Linked DNA regions of Homo sapiens: region 2 is linked to region 1. Evidence: fine-mapped expression QTL. Tissue or cell type: whole blood. Region 1 holds a variant in brackets; the other region holds the start of a gene. All regions are shown on one strand. Distances are from middle to middle.

What was found. PIP is the estimated chance that this variant, and not a neighbour inherited with it, causes the effect.
Region 2: SLIT1 starts here. The variant in region 1 is fine-mapped to the expression of SLIT1 in whole blood (TOPMed, PIP above 0.99).

The regions. Positions count from the first base shown.
Region 1 is chr10:97,278,452-97,287,673 of GRCh38, reverse strand. The region is part of intron 1 of ARHGAP19 (Rho GTPase activating protein 19); the gene reads left to right. The region is part of intron 1 of ARHGAP19-SLIT1 (ARHGAP19-SLIT1 readthrough (NMD candidate)); the gene reads left to right. Among named protein-coding and RNA genes, the nearest start is that of ARHGAP19, 9.6 kb to the left of the region's middle. The variant G/T (reference allele first, on the strand shown) is at 6,070.
Region 2 is chr10:97,181,570-97,191,598 of GRCh38, reverse strand. It overlaps SLIT1 (slit guidance ligand 1), which reads left to right and starts at 5,640. Exons shown (of 37, transcript NM_003061.3): 1 at 5,640-6,121. The coding sequence starts at 5,925. The region is part of intron 11 of ARHGAP19-SLIT1 (ARHGAP19-SLIT1 readthrough (NMD candidate)); the gene reads left to right. RefSeq lists enhancers at 4,795-5,295, 5,296-5,796.

The DNA.
Region 1 (9,222 bases):
CCTTCTGGGCTCAAGCAATCCTTCCACCTTAGCCTCTCAAGTAGCTGGGACTACAGGCATGCGCCACCACACTCGGCTAATTTTTAAAATTTATTCTAGAGACTGAGTCTCCCTATATTGCCCAGGTGGGCCTCAAACTCCTGGGCTCAAGCATTCCTCTTGCCTTGGCCTCCCAAAGTGTTGGGAATATAGGTGTGAGCCACTGCACCTGGCCAAAGATTTAAACAAGGAAAAATTGCTCTGCCTATAAAGATTCCCATGTTATGTTTTTGACCTGTTGATGAGGAACACCCCCTCCCTTCCATTTCTGGTTTTTATTAAGTAGAATGGTCCTTTAAAATTTAACACATTTCATTTCTTATACCTTCAAGTTACTCTTAAGCAGACAATACTAAAGGGGAATCACAAATAGAAAATATCCACTGCCAGGCATGGTGGCTCACGCCTGTAATCCCAGTATTTTGGGAGGGGGAGGCAGAGACAGGAAGATCACCTGAGGCCAGGAGTTTGAGACTAGCCTGGGCAATATAGGGAGATCCTATAAAAAAAATAAAAACACATAGCCAGGTGTGGTGATGCACGCCTGTGGTCCCAGCTACTTGGGAGGCTAAGGTGGGAGGATCACTTGAGCTCGGGAGGTGGAGGCTGCAAACAGCCATCATCCTGCCATTGCACTCTAGCCTGGGTGATAGAGTGAGACCCTGTACAAACAACAACAACAACAAAAACAAAAAAAACTATCCACTTTATCAATAATAGTATAAACATAATACAGACCTTTAAGGGTCAAAGAGAAAAGGCGAAAGCAGGAAATGAAATAAAGCTACTTCTCCTCATAATTGGCAGTAGGGAAATACGCACAGCTTAGTATTTTTTAATTAAAAAGAGACTTAAAAAGAAAGTGCTAACTATTATTACATGAAGAGCCAGCTTAGGAACAGACAGTAGAATGCCTGGAAATGTTTCTGGAGGACAGGGGAGGTGTCTGAAGATGTGGAAAGGGTTCTATGTCTTGTTAATTTACATATACCTTAGGTATGGAATATTGGTTAGTAAACATGACTTCTGAGCCTTGGTTTTTTGACACGGAGTCTCGCTCTGTGGCACAGGCTGGAGTGCAGTGGCGCAATCGTGCCTCACTGCAACCTCCGCCTTCTGGGTTTAAACAATTCTCCTGCCTTAGCCTCCTCAGTAGCTGGGACTACAGCCATGTGCCACCACGTCCAGCTAATTTTTGTATTTTTAGTAGAGATGGGGTTTCATCATGTTGGCCAGGCTGGTCTTAAACCCCTGACCTCAGGTGATCCACCCACCTTGGCCTCCCAAAGTGTTGGGATTACAGGTGTGAGCCACCGTGCCTGGCCTGAGCCTTTTGGTTAAATTGCTTTTTCTGTAATAAGACAGTAATGTGTTCCTTCGAGAAAAATGGTTTAAAAGGTTTAAACCTTTATTGATCCCAGGAAGACTTGTCTGTTCTTACATGCACAGTTAAGTGAGAAAACCTGAATCTAGTTTTGTATTTGTGCTGTTAAATTCTATCTGAAGGGTAATGAGGAGTAGATTTCTTCAGGGGATTTTCTTGAATCTGGTTTTATTTTACATTTTATCAATGATCAGGTTTAGAGAGTTTGATCATATTTGTAAATAAGGCCTGTCTTGGAAGGAGGGGAAGGAAGAAAACAGAATTTTAAAATTAATCTGCATAAACTGGTAAGTGGCATGAAACCACAGCATAAAGCAAAGCAGATATTGTTGCACAAGTTTACTTTGGTCAGAACAATTGGGTCGGTAGTGTTATAAAGAGTGATATAGGAAATCTGTAAACTTTTTGCTGTAAACATTACATTTGGCTTAGGCCAAGCATGGTGGCTCACGCCTGTAATCGCAGCACTTTGGGAGGCCGAGGCGGGCAGATCACTTGAGGTCAGGAGTTCGAGACTAGCCTGGCCAACATGGTGAAACCCTGTCTCTACTAAAAATATAAAATTAGCTGGGTGTGTGGCGGTTGCCTATAATCCCAGCTACTAGGGAGGCTGAGGCAGGATAATTGCTTGAACCTGGGAGCTGGAGGTTGCAGTGAGCCGAGATTGTGCCACTATACTCCAGCCTGGGCAACAGAGGGAGAGACTCTGTCTCAAAAAAAAAAAAAAAAAAGCAAAAAAAAAAAGAGAAAATTATCTAGGTATGGTGGCACATACCCGCAGTCCCAGCTACTTGGGAGGCTGAAGCAGGAGGATCACTTGAGCTCAAGAGTTTGAGGCTGCAATAAGCTAGAATGCCGCCACTACACTCTGGCCTGGGTGACTGAGACCCTGTTGTTAAAAAAAATAAATAAAAATAAATTTGTTTTAAAAAATTGTATTAAAAAACATAACAGTTTATCATCTTACCTATTAAGTGTGTAGTTAATTAATGTTAACTACATTCGCATTGTTCTGTGTCCAGCCATTTTTTATATGGAACATCTACAACCTACAAATCCATTGAAGCTTTAAGAGTATATACTTTCGGCCTTGCACAGTGTCTCATGCCTGTAATCCCAGCACTTTGGGAGGCGGAGGCGGGCGGATCACCTGAGGTCAGGAGTTTAAGACCAGCCTGGCCAGCATGGTGAAACCCCGTCTCTACTAAAAATACAAAAAATTAGCTGGGTGCAGTGGCATGCACCTGTAATCGCAGCTACTTGGGAGGCTGAGGTAGGAGAATCGCTTGAACCTGGGAGGCGGAGGTTGTGGTGAGCTAAGATCACACCATTGCACTCCAGCCTGGGCGACACAGCGAGACTCAGTCTCACAGGAAAAAAAAAAAAAAAAAAAAAGTATATGCTTTTTTTTCTTTCTTTCTTTTTTGTTAAGAGTATATAGTTTGGCTAAAAGTGGTGGCTCTCATCTGTAATCCTACCACTTTGGGAGGCTGAGGTGGTAGGATCACTTGAGCCCAGGAGTTTGAGACCAGCCTGGGCAACCTAGCAAGACATTGTCTCTACTAAAAATAAAAATAGTTAGCCAGGCGTGGTGGCACATGCCTCTGGTCTCAGCTGCTAGGAAGGCCGAGGCAGGAGGATTGCTTGAGCCTGGGAGGTCAAGGATGCACTGAACCGTGAGTATGCCACCATTCTAGCATGGGCAATAGAACAAGACCTTGCCTCAAAAAACCCCCAGTATATACTTTTTTCCCCTCTTCCCCACTATGAAATAAACTTATATAATATTTACTACAGAAGGCTAGAAAAATATGTAGAAAAAAATGGGGGCTGGTCTGAGTGTCTCACGCCTATAATCCCAGCACTTTGGGAGGCCAAGGTGGGCAGAACACTTGAGGTCAGTAGTTCGAGACCAGCCTGGCCAACATGGTGAAACCCTGTCTCTACTAAAAAGACAAAAATTAGCTGGGCATGGTGTCGCACATCTGTAATCCCAGCTACTTAAGAGGCTGAGGCAAGAGAATCGCTTGAACCTGGGAGGCAGAAGTTGCAGTGAGCCAAGATTGCACCACTGTACTCCAGCTTGGGCAACAGAGTGAGACAATGTCTCAAAAACAAAAAGCAAAAAATACAAATAAAAATAAGAGAAAAAAGCTAGGTGTGGTGGTGTGCACCTGTAGTCCCAGCTACTGGGGAGGATGAGGTGGGAAGATTGCTTGAACCTAGGAGCTTAAGGCTGCAGTGAGCTATGATGACACCACTGTGCTCCAGCCTGGGTGCCAGAGTGAGACCCTGTCTCTAAAAAAAAGAAAAAAAAAGGAAAGAAAAATATGTAGAAAAATGGTAAACTAGCCACTCCAATTTACCAGATAGATACAACCATTATTAATATTGAGACAGTTTTTTTTTTTTTTTTTTTAATAGAGATGAAGTTTCACTATGTTGTCTAGGCGGTCTCAAACTCTTGGGCTCATGTACTCCTCCCACCTTGGCAACCCAAAGTGCTGGGATTACAGGTGTGAGCCACCATGTCTGGTTCCTTCTGAGTCTTAAACTGTAATGCCTCTTATCTAAAATATGACCCATCCAAGATCTGATTTCTATCTTGGTTTCCCAGTTTCCTCCCAATAAGTGCATCATTTCTGGTTGGAAACAGTATAGCAAAAGAGTGATTGAAATACAATTTTTTTTTTTTTTGAGACAGAGTCTCACTCTGTTGCCCAGGCCGGAGTGCAGTGGCATGATCTCAGCTTGCTGCAGCCTCCGTCTCCTGGGTTCAAGCAGTTCTCCTGCCTCGGCCTCCCGAGTAGCTGGGACTACAGGCATGCGCCACCATGCTGGCTAATTTTTGTATTTTTAGTAGAGACGGGGTATCACCATGTTGGCCAGGTTGGTCTCGAACTCTTGACCTCATGATCCACCCACCTCAGCCTCCTGAAGATGCCCTCTGGTCACCTTCAGTGAACACTCTCACCTACACTTTTACTAACCATCTTTTAGGGTGGGTTGTTTCTACAGATGCTGGAGCCTATTTATTTTGTGCTGATGTTTTGCTACTGTTACCCGATATAAACTAAATTCAGCTAGGCCATAGAAACTACATAGTAACAGCCGGGCGGGTGGCTCACGCCTGTAATCCCAGCACTTTGGGAGGCTGAGGTGGGTGGATTGCCTGAGGTCAGGAGTTCAAGACCAGCCTGGCCAATATGGTGAAACCCCGTCTCTACTAAAAATACAAAAATTAGCCAGGCGTGGTGGCAGACGCCTGTAATCCCAGCTACTTGGGAGGCTGGGGCAGGAGAATCGCTTGAACCTGGGAGGTGGAGGTTGCAGTAAGCCGAGATCGCACCACTGCACTCCAGCCTGGGCGACCAGAGTGAGACTCTGTCTCAAAAAAAAAAAAAAAAAAAAGAAAAAAGAAACTACATAGTACTTTAAACAGAGAACATTTAATAGGTTATAAACTATAACTGGGGATTCGAGTAACAAGGAATTGGCTAGTAAGAAGTAAAGAGATCTCTAAGAAATATAGAAATAGATACAGGAATCAGCTGAGTTAGAATGTACAAGGAAGAGGGTCCCTAGGGCAGAGTTCCAGACCTTGCTGGAGATGGCATGGCCATGGCTGACTGATTGGCAGCCATTGCTCTGAAGGGGAAGATACAGAAGGGAGGGCTCAGATTCATACTGGGACAAACAGACTTACACATTCATATTTGTTAGGATTCTTCAGTTATATGTGATAGAAACTAAAACTAGCTTAAGCAAAAAGAGACTCTATTAATTGGCTCAAGAAACTGAAAAGTCCAGGGGATAAATCAAGTATGGTTTAATCTGTATGGAAAATCTCAAATCTCAGTGTTGTTAGATATCTACCTCTTTACTGTCTTAGATCTGGTTTCCTCTGTATTTGCTTCCTAAGAAGGCAGATTCTGTATAAAAAGTGGCAGTAATAGGCCACCAACGGTGTCAGTCTTACATCCCACCAGCTTAGCAATTTTAGGATTCACAAGAGTCTTGGAGTTGAGACTTTTTGTCCTGGTTTGACTTGTGGGCCTTTGCTTGGATTCATGAAGGGAATAGAATGTTTCAGTTGGTTAAGCTTGGATGACATGCTCACAGGCAGTGCCCACCAGGTCACATAGATTCGAAAGATGGGGAGAGGTTTATTGCTTAAAGGAAAATGGGGGTGCTGTTACCAGAGGAAGGGGAAAATACGTATTGGGAATTCAAAAGCAGCAGATGTCCACTGTGCTATCTCTGTAACTCCCCTGTGTACCTCTCTTTAAATTTATGTTTTGAAAAGGGCTGGCCACTAATGTGTGGCGAAAACATTTTATGTTTCTTAAAAAAACCCTGAGAAACCAAAAAGCACCTTAAGTATTAGCTCTTTTTTTCTCCCACTGTCTAACTCCTACACGTCTTTAAGATCTAGCTCAAATCTCTTGTATATGGGTAAAAGATTCTCTCCTGAATTCTTAGAGCCTTTATTGTCTGTATCATGCATTTGGCTATTAATGATCTTGTATCATCTTTTGCGTTGTGGTCTTTAGCTACTATTTGAAATCGCGTAGCACTTAGTGAATTTTCAGTTCCTGGAGGCCAGAGACTTACCTTAGTTTTTGTCCCCTATACCTTACAATACC[G/T]TAAAGTTACAAAGCAATTAGTAGATCATGATTGGATTGATTTTAAATGACACACAAGTGATCGATTTCTTGTTTGGGTACCATATGTCTCAGAAAAGCAATTCACCTTCTTATGTTGGTTGATGAAAAGATTTATAGTTAAATTTGTGAAATATTGAATATTTCTGGCTGACTACAAGTATAGAAACTCTTTTCTTTTTTGAAACAGGGTCTCACTCTGTTATGACTCAGGCTGGCGTGCAGGGGCAAGAACACACCTCACTGCAGCCTTGACCTCCTGGGCTTAGGTGATCCTCCTACCTCAGCCTCCTGAGTAGTTGGGACCGTAGACTCAAGCAACCATGCCTGGCTAATTTAAAAACAATTTTTTTTTTTTTTTTTTTTTGTAGTGACAGAGTCTTGTCAGGTTGCTTATACTGGTCTTGAACTCCTAGGCTCAAGTGATCCTGCCACCTTGTCCTCACAAGGTGTTGGAATTATAGACATGAGCCGCTGTGCCTGGCCAGAAACTCTTAAGAATTTTCAATTTGTGAACTTGTGTAGATATGAACAAGTCATGTGCCAGAACAAAAACCATTAGCTGTCTCTTGGATAGTATGTGTCACTCTGAACTTTGGAACAAATGAATATAGAAGTAGTCTTTTAGGACCTAATCAGATCATACGTAGAAGTACTTCTAGTTTTAATTGCCTGAGACTCATGGCACTTAAAAGTCTGTAGGAGGCTGGGTGCAGTGGCTCATGCCTAATGCCAGCACTTGGGGAGGCTGAGCTGGGAGGATCGCTTGAGGCCAGGAGTTTGAGACTAGTGTGGTCAACATAGTGAGACCCTGGGCTGTATTAAAAAATTAGCCAGGTGTGGTGGCACACACCTTTAGTCTTAGCACTTTGGGAGGTTGATGTGGGAGTATGGGAGGATCCCTTGAGCCCAGGTGTTGAAGGCTGAAGTGAACTATGATTGCACACTGCATTACAGCCTGGTCAACAGAGTGAGACCCTGTCTTAGGGGAAAAAAAAAAAATAGGAAAAGAGAGACTCATGAAGCATTGACTCTGATTTTTTGAGGAGCAAATATTTTTTAGATAAATGGTAAGAAAGAGACTGTATTATCAGTGAAGCATCCTATAGAACTTTTTCCAAGTTAATAGGGAATTTTGATGTTACCTTTTTTTTCTTTTAATTATTATTATTATTTTTGAGATGGAGTCTTGGTCTGTCACCTTGGCTGGAGTGCAGTGGTGTGATCTCGGCTCACTGCAACCTCTGCCTCCCGGGTTCAAGTGATTCTCCTTCCTCAGCCTCCCTTGTAGCTGGGATTACAGGTGTGCACCACCACACCCAGCTAATTCTTTTGTATTTTTAGTAGAGATGGGGTTTCACTATGTTGGCTAGGGTGGTCTTGAACTCCTGACCTCAAATGATCTGTCCACCTCGGCCTCCTAAAGTGCTGGGATTACAGATGTGAACCACTGCACCCAGCCTGATGTTACTTTCTTAATACAAATAACTTTCTTCCCATTGTACACTAGCATGAGGGAGAAAAATTAAGGAAGGTGTCAGCAGCATAATTAATGCTTATTCATATGACACCCAGAAAGATAAAAATTACCAAGCAAATAAATGAGTGAGTAAATTGGCATTATTTATACTCATCATTCTTGACTGAGAATATTACATTGTCATTCCATAGGGCAGAATCTTAGATTAGGATTCCAAAAATGTTTAGGTTAAGAAGGTAGGCAATCAAGAGTTTTTTCATCTCAGAATAGTTTGCCAGTTTAATTTTGGTTAAGTTGTATTATTAGTTTGAAATTTGGGCTGGGCGTGGTGGCTTATGCCTGTGATCCCAGCACTTTGGGAGGCCGAGGTGCGAGGATCACTTGGGCCCAGGAATTTGAGACCTGGGCAACGTAGAAAGACTTGTGTCTACAAATAATAAAAAAAAATTAGCCAGGTGTGGCTGTGCATGTCTATGGTCCCAGCTACTTGGGAGGACGAGGTGGGGGAATTGTTTGAGCTCAGGCAGTTGAGGCTACAGTGAGTCATGATTGCGCCATTGCACTCTAGCCTGGGCAACAAGGGAAGACCCAGCCTCAAACAAACAAACAAAACGCACACACACACACACAAAAGCAAGCAAGAAAGAAATTTGTTCAGGTTGAGATCAAATATAGGGGCTAAATATATTTGCAGACTTTTGGAGTCTAACTTAGAGATAATTTTGTAGTCCATACTATAAAACATTGCACAGCTACTCCTAAGGGCAGACCTTAGGGTATAAATATTTCAAAAATTTTATCTAAGAAATTGGATATCGTTCCCTGAATTGTGGTACGACTTATTAATGTTGAACTGTCTCTGGTATTAAAAAGCACCACCAGCTTGGACATGTAGGGCCTGTTTAGTTTTCTCTTCTCTTTTTATGTACAGCTTTCATGATACTGGCTTAAATTTGATACATAGAAAGAGGGAAGAATACAGTCTTTTCTTTGATAGTTGTATTTCTTATCTAACAGCTTTCCAACAAAGTGACACATTTAAAGCTGTGTTTCAGAGCCTTTTAGAGTTGAAAAAGCAGTAAGAGAGAGGGCATTCTTCTCTCAGGGTGGTAAATCAGATTTAGACAACTTTAAATATAGCTCATATTTTGATAAATCTTGCCAAGGTTGTGGTTCTTGGAAAACAAATCAAGTTAGGCAATTCACCAGGGAGGAAACATTTAGTTTTGTGGGTATGCAGTTTTGGTATAGTCAGCCAAAAGATACATCTGCAGGATGCAGTTTTTTTTTTTTTTAACTGCCTTGAATTTTGCAGATTCATGGCTTCAACATGCCTCAGAAGCACTTGCATTTCATTTTTCTGTAATTGATTTTTCAGCTGTGGATTGTTTCCAGTCCTTTCACTGAGCATATCACCTTACATGTAGGGTTCCATCTAGTGGTAAAAGTGGTAATTGTATACTGTGAGTAGGTTATACAAATTATTATTTTTTTAGTATTACTAGATTGATAAATTTATGCCACTTTGACATGATAGGCCACAATCCACCTGATTGATACTCATTTGGCACACTCTTCTCAATTCTGTTCACTGAGTTATATCTTGAGTTAGGATGAAAATAATGCAGCTTTCAGGCTTTAAAGTGACTAAATTT
Region 2 (10,029 bases), 96 kb after region 1:
TTTAGGCATCCACCTGGGGTCTTAGAATGTATCCCTATGTAGATAAGGGGGGACTACGTAGTAGGAAAATATGATCCATAATGAAGAAGAAAAGTAATCAATCATTTCAAACCCAGAAGTGATACATATAATAGAATTGGTAATGTAGTTATTACAACTATATTCCATATGTACACTAAGGTAGAGGAAAATATAAGCATGTTAAGAAGATACGTGGAAGATTAAAAAAAAAAACCGAAGTAGATTTTCTAGAGATGAAAAGTACAATGTCTGAGATAAAAATTGTACCAGATGGAGCCGGTACGGTGACTCAGGCCTGTAAGCCCAGCTCTTTGGGAGGCTGAGGTGGGCAGATCTCTTGAGATCAGGGGTTCCAGACCAGCCTGGCTAACATGGTGAAACCCGATCTCTACTAAAAATACAAACATTAGCTAGGCACGATGGCACACGCCTGTAGTCCCAGCTACTTGGGAGGCTGAGGCAGGAGAATCGCTTGAACCCGGGAGGCGGAGGTTGCTGTGAGCTGAGATTGTGCCACTGCACTCCAGCCTGGGTGACAGTGAGACTCCATTTCAAAAAAAAAAAAAAAATTACCAGATGGGATTAACAGCAGATTAGATACTGTAGAAGAAAAGATAATGAACACGACAATACACCAGGAGAAACTCACCAAAACGAAAGAGAGAGAGAAACAAGGCTAAAAAAAGGAACAGGGCATCATCCATCCATGGACTATGAGACAACTCCAAATGGCCTAATTATGTATAAATGGGGCCCCCAAAAATGAAGAAAGAGAGGAGGGAACAAAAAAAAGTGAAGAAATAATGGTTGAAAACTTTAAATTTGATGAAAACTGTGAACAAGATACAGGAAACCCAGTGAACCCAAAGCACAGATCTCTTCTATTTCCAGTGCGTGGCTCTCAGCTGGCATGCAATCAATGTCTGATGAATAGATGAATGGTTGCTGTCAGTGCAGGCTGTCTGCCTGCTTTCTGCCTTTCTTTTCCTCCTCTTCTCCCACCCCAGCACCCACTTTGCTTCTCTCTTGCTTCCAGTGCTTCTATTTACCAGAGTTATCTTGGATGCCTATGATGGCCTCTGGGCTATAAACGCCACTTGACCTTTAGTCTAGGAGCTTGTCCTTGCTGTAGGCTTTGCCACTGAGAGCCTCCAACAATTCAGCCTCCTCCAAATTTGACAATAGCCAGGGGTTTAGAGACTAAAGCTAAGATATCATGAGTCCTGCTGGCACAGACTTCCCAGAGACTCCTGTTTTCGTAGTTCCCCTGTGGTGGCAGGGCCAGGAGGAGTGCCCAGGATGGACTGGATGCTGTGTTCTGCCCGGGTGTGTGGCCTCATTCACGGCCCACCTCTGCAGCTCCTTTGCCTTGTGAGGTCAGGCTGGTTGCTTCATTTCTCTGGGCTTCTAACTGTTTACTGGTGCTTGGATTTGATCATTTTTTAATCCCCTTCCAGCTCTGACATCTTGTACTCCCCTGCCACTCTCCCTTGACCATCTTTCTCTTTCACATGCCTCATCCTTGCTAATGGTGTGTGGAACCTGGAGATGAGGAAGGCAGGTGGGCCTCAGATCCATTGTCCCTGCCAGGCTCCTTCCTTCAATGGCTCCCCAGAGTTTTCAGTCTAATTCCAAACTCATAACTCAGCACACCAGGCCTTGATTCTTAGAGCATGGTCTCTGGAATCACCTGCATCAGAATTAGCACCGCCTCTACCCCCCATTCCCAGCTTGCTAACACTGAAGGTTCTGACTGGGAAGATCGGGGGTGGGTCACAGGAATCAGCATGTATGATAAGCACCCCAGGGGGGTTAAAATGTATTGGTAGGGGGAAATTAGCTCCTACCACACAGGGTAAAAAATCCGAACAAAGGCTGGGTGTGGTGGCTTACGCCTGTAATCCCAGCACTTTGGGAGGCTGAGGCGAGAGGATCGCTTGAGCCCCGGAGTTGGAGGCTGCAGTGAGCTATGATTGTGCCACTGTACTCCAGCCTGGGCAACACAGCATGATTCTATCTCAAAAAACAAGCAAAAAACCTCCCAAACAGTAGAAAAGAAACATCTGCTGCAACTTTCTCCTTGCTACCTCCCAAGTCACCTCCCTGGAAGCACCAGGTTCCAGAGACACTGGTTCCAGAGGTGGTGCATTTCCAAGCCCATGCATATATAGACATGTGTTTGAGGACAGGGCCAGGCCAGGTGATGCTGAAAGCCCAGTGAAGCCAGAGAAAGGCTGCACCAGGGCCTCTGGGGTGTGTCCTCATTACCTCTGTAACCTCCATCTGTGCTCCCCACCTGAACCCCCTGCCACAATCCAGCCTTGCTGGACGTGCCCCAGCTCAGCCATTGAGAATGCTGCCCCCAGTCTGTGTGACTTGCCTCAAGTGCTTCTCTTTGCTGAGAGAGCCTTTTTTCCTGTTTTGTTGCCCAGAGAATGCCTATTTATCCTTCAAGACCTAGTTCAAGTGCCTCCTCTTCCAGGGAGCCTTCCAGCCCCACTCTGTGCCCTCATTCTGGGTTCTCTGCAATTCCACATTCGCTGACACCCAAATGAATATGCTTTCCTGCTTCCTGTTTCTGTGCCCCCACCGGACAGTGAGCCCACTGAGGGCCAGGGCCATTCTTGTCCCCTGTTGAATTGCTGAGTTCCAGTACAGCACATGTAGTACACAGATACTCCGTAAGTGGTGTTTATCAGATGTCTACTTAGAAGGCATTCTGTCTCACTTTTCCTTTTTGCAGTTTGGAAATCCATCCCACAATGCTCCTCAGCCTCACCCAGGTTCTCCCGCTTCTTGGTGCTCCAAAAGGGGCTGGTGGCGGTGGGAGAGAGGACTCTGTGCAGAAGCCATAAAGAGAACGCTCTCTTCTTGAGTCACACGGGGGAAGTGGCCCTCAACTCCCAGCACATGTGGCTGAGAGGACTCAGAGGGGACTCACGTCACTGGGCTGGGGAGACTCAACCTCAAATTTCCCTTCCAGGGGGTTGCCCTGCTGGTGGCAGGTGAGCAGGGACAGGCTTGGTGGAGTATTCCTGGCAGAAGCAATGTGCCAGGCCTGCCTCCTCCCCACCCGTGCAGCGGGAGCAGGTGGCCCGGCTGCAGGGAGGGGGTAGGGAGACCCAAGAGAGGGAGGGGCATGGGAGAGGAAATTGAAAAAACAGAGTGGGGCTTGGGGGTGTGCGGCCAGCCAGGCAGTTGTTTAACAAGTAAATGTGCCGGGCACGCTAATGAGCTGCGCTCATTCATGGCGAGCCGCCTCCTGAATTGGGGAGCTGGCCAGGTTCTGGGGTGGAGGAACCAGGGACAGGAGCCAAGCTGGGGAGCTGCCCGCTGCTTGGGCAGGGCCCCCTGTGATGGGCTGCTGGGGGAGTCTTTGTCCTGGGTCTGGGGGGCTCCTTCCTTCCCTCCCTTCAGAGGAAAAGCCAGGCTTTGCCAGGCAGCAGCAACTCAGCCCAGGGCCTGCTTGGGATTCACTGTCCAGGCTGGTCTGGAAGCTTCTAGGGCAGGGGCTGGTTCTCAGGAGCCATAGGCAGGGCTGATCTTGCACCCCTGCTCACTCCCACCCTTCCTCATACCCCTTCACTCTGTCACTCTGAGGACCTAGGGGCATGTCGCCTGGCTAATCAACACTCTCTCCCTTCTCCACATGGGTCTTGGCTTCCAAGGGGCCCTCCGAGGTCCTGGGACCAGGGAGCTACTGCTGGAGCAGAAGGCTGGAGACATCTTCAACAGCCTGAGTGCTGTCTGTGACAGGCCTACTAAGTGCCAGGTGCTGGGGTGTGTGTCTGGGTGAGCGAGTGAGGATGCCAGGGGGTGGGCAGGGGTGTGGAGAAGCAGCTGCAGGTACTAAGAGGGGATAAACAAAGCAGCGGGCATGGAGGAATGTCACTCTGAGGCTGCGGGGAGAGCATGGATAGAGGGGCTGGGGCCCCATGGAGCAGGAGCTGGTGAGCTGCAGGGCAGGGGCAGCCCTCTCAGACTCCGGCCTGGTTTGTGGGAAGCTTCCCTAATATCCCACCACACAGGCACCCCTGAGAAAGCCCTGCCCCCTGAGAAACTGAACTTATGCTCAAGAACCCACTTACCGGATGGAGGTCATGGACAGGGATGTGTGAAAACTTTAAAAGAACTGTCAAAAGCCCATAAAATCAGCCACCTAAATTGTAACATACTGTGCTATGACAGTAGAGAGACTGCAAAATTCTCATCAACATGGAAAAGAAAAGCAAAGAAAACGCCTGAGCCTTGGGTACCTGGTGGGTGATAAGGCTTCAACCTTGTGGAGTCTATCAACCTCCCCTATCCCCACCCTGCCCGACACTCTCCCCACCAAATGCGTCCATGCTGTGTCTGGACCCAGGCCGCTCCTGAGACGGGAGGTGCTTCTCGGGCTACCCAGCTGTGTCCTCTTGCCAAGCAGCCTCACGTCAAGGCCCCGACTGCTGGACACTGCCCCAGCGAGCCACAGCTGTCCTTGGCGTTGAGGAGATCTTTCGTCTTTTCTGGGGTTGAGGAGAATTCTCTCCCCACCTGGATGTCCCGTTCACACCCACGTCCACACATGCCTTACGGTGACGAAGGTCCCTACCCAGCCGGGTGTGAGGCCTGGGTCTGACGGGGCTGGCCTGTGGGGTTCTCTCCCAAGCAGGCCGCCCAGCGCTATGCCAGCCCTCTCTGTCTCCTTTGATGTCAAGATGGAATATTCATTTTCATCTGTTTCCACCTGTCAGAAATGGAGGAACGCTGGTGTGAGTGGAGGAAGACGTTTGCCAGATTTCCAAGTCCCCTTAATGTCTGTCCCTCTCTTCTACAACGGGGGAAGAAGCCCGTGTAACTGTATGGTACAAATACGCCCTGCTGAGCAAGTGTTCCAATCAGAGCCATTCTCATCCTGGGCATGCGGCTAGCTTGTTCCCCTCTGAGAAGTGGGTGCATTGAGGTAGGAAGGAGACTGTACTCCGCCTAGCGCTTTCGTGGACCCTCCCCCCCGACAAAGCTCCATCCTCAAAGTCCAGGCTAAGTAAGGTTGGTGGCTTGAGGATGCTACCTGGGGCACAGGCACAGGGTTTCCCTTAACCAAGAATTGACACAGCGAGTCGGGTGGGGCCGAGAGGCCGCTGCTGCCGTCGGGGGATGGGGGGAAACGGGTCTGACTCCCCGGGAAGGCGTCCAAGCGGCAAAATAAGATCTCCCTCCCACCCTGGACTAGCAGCTGGGGCCGCGGGTGCCGGGGTGCGTGCGTCTAAATGTGCGCATCCTCGCCGTGTGTGTGTGTGTGTGTGTGTGTGTGTGTGTGTGTGTGTGTGTACAGCCAGGACTTGGCGGGTCGAGTCACACCCCCTTCCCTCTTCTCCCATCCCCCGCAGCCCCGTGCCCGCTGACGGCGCCTCGGAGGTTCCACCTTTGAAACTGTAGGCGGCTTGCAGCCGCTGAGTGGTCGTCGGGAGAGGGGGGCTGCGGCGGGGGAGGGCGGGGAGGAGCCTGGCCCTGGATGTGTGCTTTTCGATTGATGGATGACTGCCGGGTGGGAGCGAGCGCGCGGGTGTGTGTGTGATCGTGTGTGTGTGTGTGGTGTGTGCGCAGGGTGCGTGCGCGCGCGGGGCCTGCCCATTTTCCTCCTCGCAGCAGTCAGTTGGGAGCTGGAGGGAGGGAGAGGGAGACGCAGGCGGCGAAACGGCAGAGGAGCCGAGCCCCCTCCGCCCAAGGCGCCCTCCCTCCGTCCGCGCACAGGCGCCGTCGCTTGGAGGAGCAAGGTGCCTCCCAGCCCGCAGGGGCGCCGCGCGCAAGCCCGCGGGCTCTTCGGTGGCTCTGCCCCGGGACTGCACCTGGAGGCGGCCCCGGACGGGGATGGTCAGCGGCTGCTGCCGTCTGGCTCGCGAGCGGGACGCTGTGAGGGCACCATGGCGCTGACTCCCGGGTGGGGGTCCTCGGCGGGGCCGGTCCGGCCGGAGCTCTGGCTGCTGCTGTGGGCAGCCGCGTGGCGCCTGGGTGCCTCGGCGTGCCCCGCCCTCTGCACCTGCACCGGAACCACGGTGGACTGCCACGGCACGGGGCTGCAGGCCATTCCCAAGAATATACCTCGGAACACCGAGCGCCTGTGAGTATGGTCCCCGCCCCTGGCTCCCTGGCTCCGAGGTTGCCCTCCCACCCAGACGCAATTCCGGACTTGGGGGTGGGGGCAGGACCATTGGGGCCCGTCCGGGCTCCGCAGCCCACAGACGGGTCAGTGCCTGCCGGGGTCTTTCCCGAGCCAGGAGCCAGGAGCGCCGTGGTTTCCCCATCCCTGGGATTCAAAGGGCCCTCGGCGGGGTTGTCAGCTTCCGTCCTCACACCTGCACCCTGCACCCTGCACTCCGCACCCTCAGGCCCTCCTCACTGCGCCAGCGCTTTATTCCTCCAGGGTGCCTGCGAACTGGTGTCAGAAAGCCTTCCTTGCACCCAGGAGGGACACTTCCCACACTCGCCAAGCACAATGTCTCCTTTTGGGCACATGGGGCTACGGCCGCGTTCTGAGCCAGCTGCGCAGATTCCCGCTCCCAGAGCTTGCTCCTGACGAAGGGCAGCAGGGTGGGATGGAGGCGAAGTTTCTGGTCTGCCCCTTCTTCTCCATTGTTTGCCCCAGAGCCTTGAGAATTCTTCCCCTGCAGGTGCCACGCGTTGGTCCCCTACTCACCCGCCTCCCTCCACACCCAGCCATCCCCAACACAGGCAGACAATGGGACCTGAGGGCTTTGGGTATGGGGCTTGGGGTATGTAACATTCAGCACCCGAAAAGGGGCAGGTGTGTCTTGGATGGAGAACCCGGTGGATAATGCCAAGAAGTCAGGAGCTTGGAGAGGGGGGCCCAAGGTTAAAGATATTGACCATGACAAGTAATAAAAAAATAGCATTTCTCTTCCCCTGTTCTGTCTCACTTGTGAATTCTTGAGGAAACTTGATCCTTTTCTTTTCTAGACCCAGTAAGCTAGTAGAATGTGTGTGTGTGTGTTTGGGTGTGTTTGAGTGTGTGTATTTACAGACCTTTATACTTTGTTTTCTGTGACTCTCCTGCAGAATGTGTTTCTGTGTGAATTCCTAGTATTAAGGGGCCACCTTAATAGCGTGAGGCCATGAGAGTCCCCGTAATGGGCTGTGTGTGTGTAGATTTTGGTCACATGCAGGGCCTTTGTACTGCTCGCAGAGGTGACTACACCAGGAGATTTTTGAACAGGGCTTTGGAGAAGGCTGCTGGCTCCTTTGAAACCTACCTACTCCTCCTTCCCACACTCCTCGGTGACTGCAGTGGCTCTCAGGAAAGGTGTGCATATTTTGATAACTTTCGAGCACATTTTCATGGCCCCCAGCTGGTCAGAGACAGAAATCTGACCCTGAGGAGAGCTGTCTCCCGAATCAGACTCTGTACCAAGGCCAGCAATTAGTGAGCACACATTTGCCCCAGACTCTTCTTGGCTGCATCTGAAAAATTCCCGTGGAGGTTTTAGAGAATTTGCAATCTAGATGCAATCTAGATGGGAAGTGTGTGTGTGTGTGTGTGTGTGTGTGTGTGTGTGTGTGTGGTGCATGTGTATGTGTGTGTGTGAATGCTTGTGTGTTACAGGGCTGGGGAGAGGTGGTACCAAACTGAGTTTCTGTGGGCAGCGTGTGCATTATCCTGTGTGGACCCAGAGAGGATCTGAGGGTCAGAAATCTGTCCAGAGGACCCCCGCAGTGGCCTGGTCACCCTCCATGCCTGTCCCCTCTGTACCTGCTCCCTGCTCCCCTTGCCTTGTCCACTGGAGTTTCTCCTGAAGCTGCTACCCTGGTTGCAGCCTAGATCTAAGACACATTAGCCCTTCTTCTTTGCTTTTGAATCTTGAGTCTTAAAGTCATCTCCTCCCTCTTTACTCTCTCACCACCTTTAGTGTTTAAGACTTCCATGAACTCTTTAGCTCTTTTGTGATCAGAGTGAGATGAAAATGAAATTTCCTAGTACAGAGGAAAGAGGTGGCATTCTGGGAGCTATACTGCCTGGTTCCCCAGCTCTGTCACCTATTAGCTGTGTGACCTTGGGCAAGTTACTTAACTTCTCTGAACCTTAGTTGCTTTCCATCAGGAAAATGGGGCTGAGGCTACATAAGGTCTCTGGTTCTTGTGAGGATGGAAGATCATGTATGGGAATTGCCTGGTACCTTCTGATGCTCGCTAAACGAGAGCCATTATTATGATAGGATAGGGAGGGGAATCTCATTATTTTAATTCAGCAAATGTTTCGGAGCCAGGAACTGCCCTGGGTGCTGAGGCGTCAGCAGGGAGTGAGCCCATCCCTGTCCTCAAGGGGCACATGGTCTAGAGAACTGGGCAGAGGACCTCTAATGGTGAGCTCTCAGGAGAGGGCCAGGCAGCCTCAGGGAACGGACTGTGGGAACACTGGGGTGAGAAGCCCTTTTCCAGGGTGAAGGGGTTTCTCAGAGGATGGGCCACTTTATCAAGGTTGGTTTGGATTTTGCCAAGCACAGAGGGCAGGCAATCTAGGCAGAGGGAACAGCTGGGCTCCAGGCCCAGCACATTCTGCTGCTTGTCAGGTCATGGGGCCTGCTTTCTTGCAGACGTCTTTTTTTTTTTTTCCTTTTTTGTAGAGATGAGGATCTGGCTATATTGCCCAGGCTGGTCTCAAACTTCTGGGCTCAAGCAATCCTCCTGCCTCCGCCTCCCAAAGTGTTGGGATTACAGGCGTGAGCATAAGCAAAAAGCCAGCAGGTGTGAGTATGAGCCAAAAACCTGCGGGTGTAAGCATGCCTGGCCCGATATGGGCAGATGGACCAGCTTGTCCCTGGGGCTGAAACATGCTCTGGCCAGTGGCCAGTGGGTGGGATGGGACTTGAGGCTGGAAAGAGATGTTGGGAAGGGTCAGGAAGACTTTCTATATGTGAACTTTTCCTCTGGGAACTTCCTAGTTGGAAGCCAGGGGTGAGTTATCCTGGGGAAGTGGAGCAGGTCTGATCTTTGCCATGTGGGCAAAGCTTCCTGGACTGGGAAAGCGCAGGGAGCCCGCCTGTTCTCCAGGCAGCCCGTGAAAGAGCTGCTCAAAGAGGAAAAGAACATCTTGAAAGAGGCCTTGGTGAGAGCCCAGGCAGACTCAAAATAACTGTGGCAAATGCTCTCTCTAATCAATATGAGTGTTGTGCAGTATCAGAGCCTGAAACAGTGGCTTCTTCTGAGGCTGTGAAATTTTTATGGACTGCAGCTGTGCATTTGCCTTTTGTCCTTTGGGCAGTTTCTGCGGCAGCCTGCGAGGCCCAGCAACTTTATGATCATATATTCTATAACTCTGGGTCCAGGCCTGTCCCCCGAAATGGAAAGAAATGGTCATTGGTTTGCTGTGGGGACTTCTGGAAAGAGGTTGGGTAGGCCCCAGAGCTGCTGAGGAAATTGGTTCAGCCAGAGGGGCTGTGGGGCTGGTCAGCTGGGCAGGGAAGGGATGCTAAATAATTCACTGTAATGAACAGTTAAAATACAGAGCCAGGGCTGGGAGAGGTGGCGGAGGCGGCCCGGGAAGCTTCCTTTCTTTGTACTGCCCAGGCGCAGAGAGACCCAGCCATGGTCACCATTAAGTTATTTTTTTCTTCCACAACGACCTTGACTTTCAGTTGGACTTGGTTTTTAATTTAAAAAATCTTTTGAGTGTCCAGGAGAGTGTGACAGGAGAGTGCAGTATGTGTGGACATCGCTGGTTCCCCCAGCCCTGGGCATCCTGGGTATTTGAGGTTTGTGGAAGGTTCCCCTTGTGCAGAGAGGGTAAGTTGTCCGAGGATGGAGGGAGGCAGGCAGGGCCTCTGGGAAGGCCTACTGTTCTCTCTTTGCCTCCAGGCCCAGCACATTCTGCTGCTTGTCTGGTCTTTTTTTTTCCTTTTTTGTAGAGATGGGGATCTAGCTATGTTGCCCAGGCTGGTCTCAAGCTTCTGGGCTCAAGCAATCCTCCTGCCTCAGTCTCCCAAAGTGCTGGGATTACAGGCATGAGCCACCATG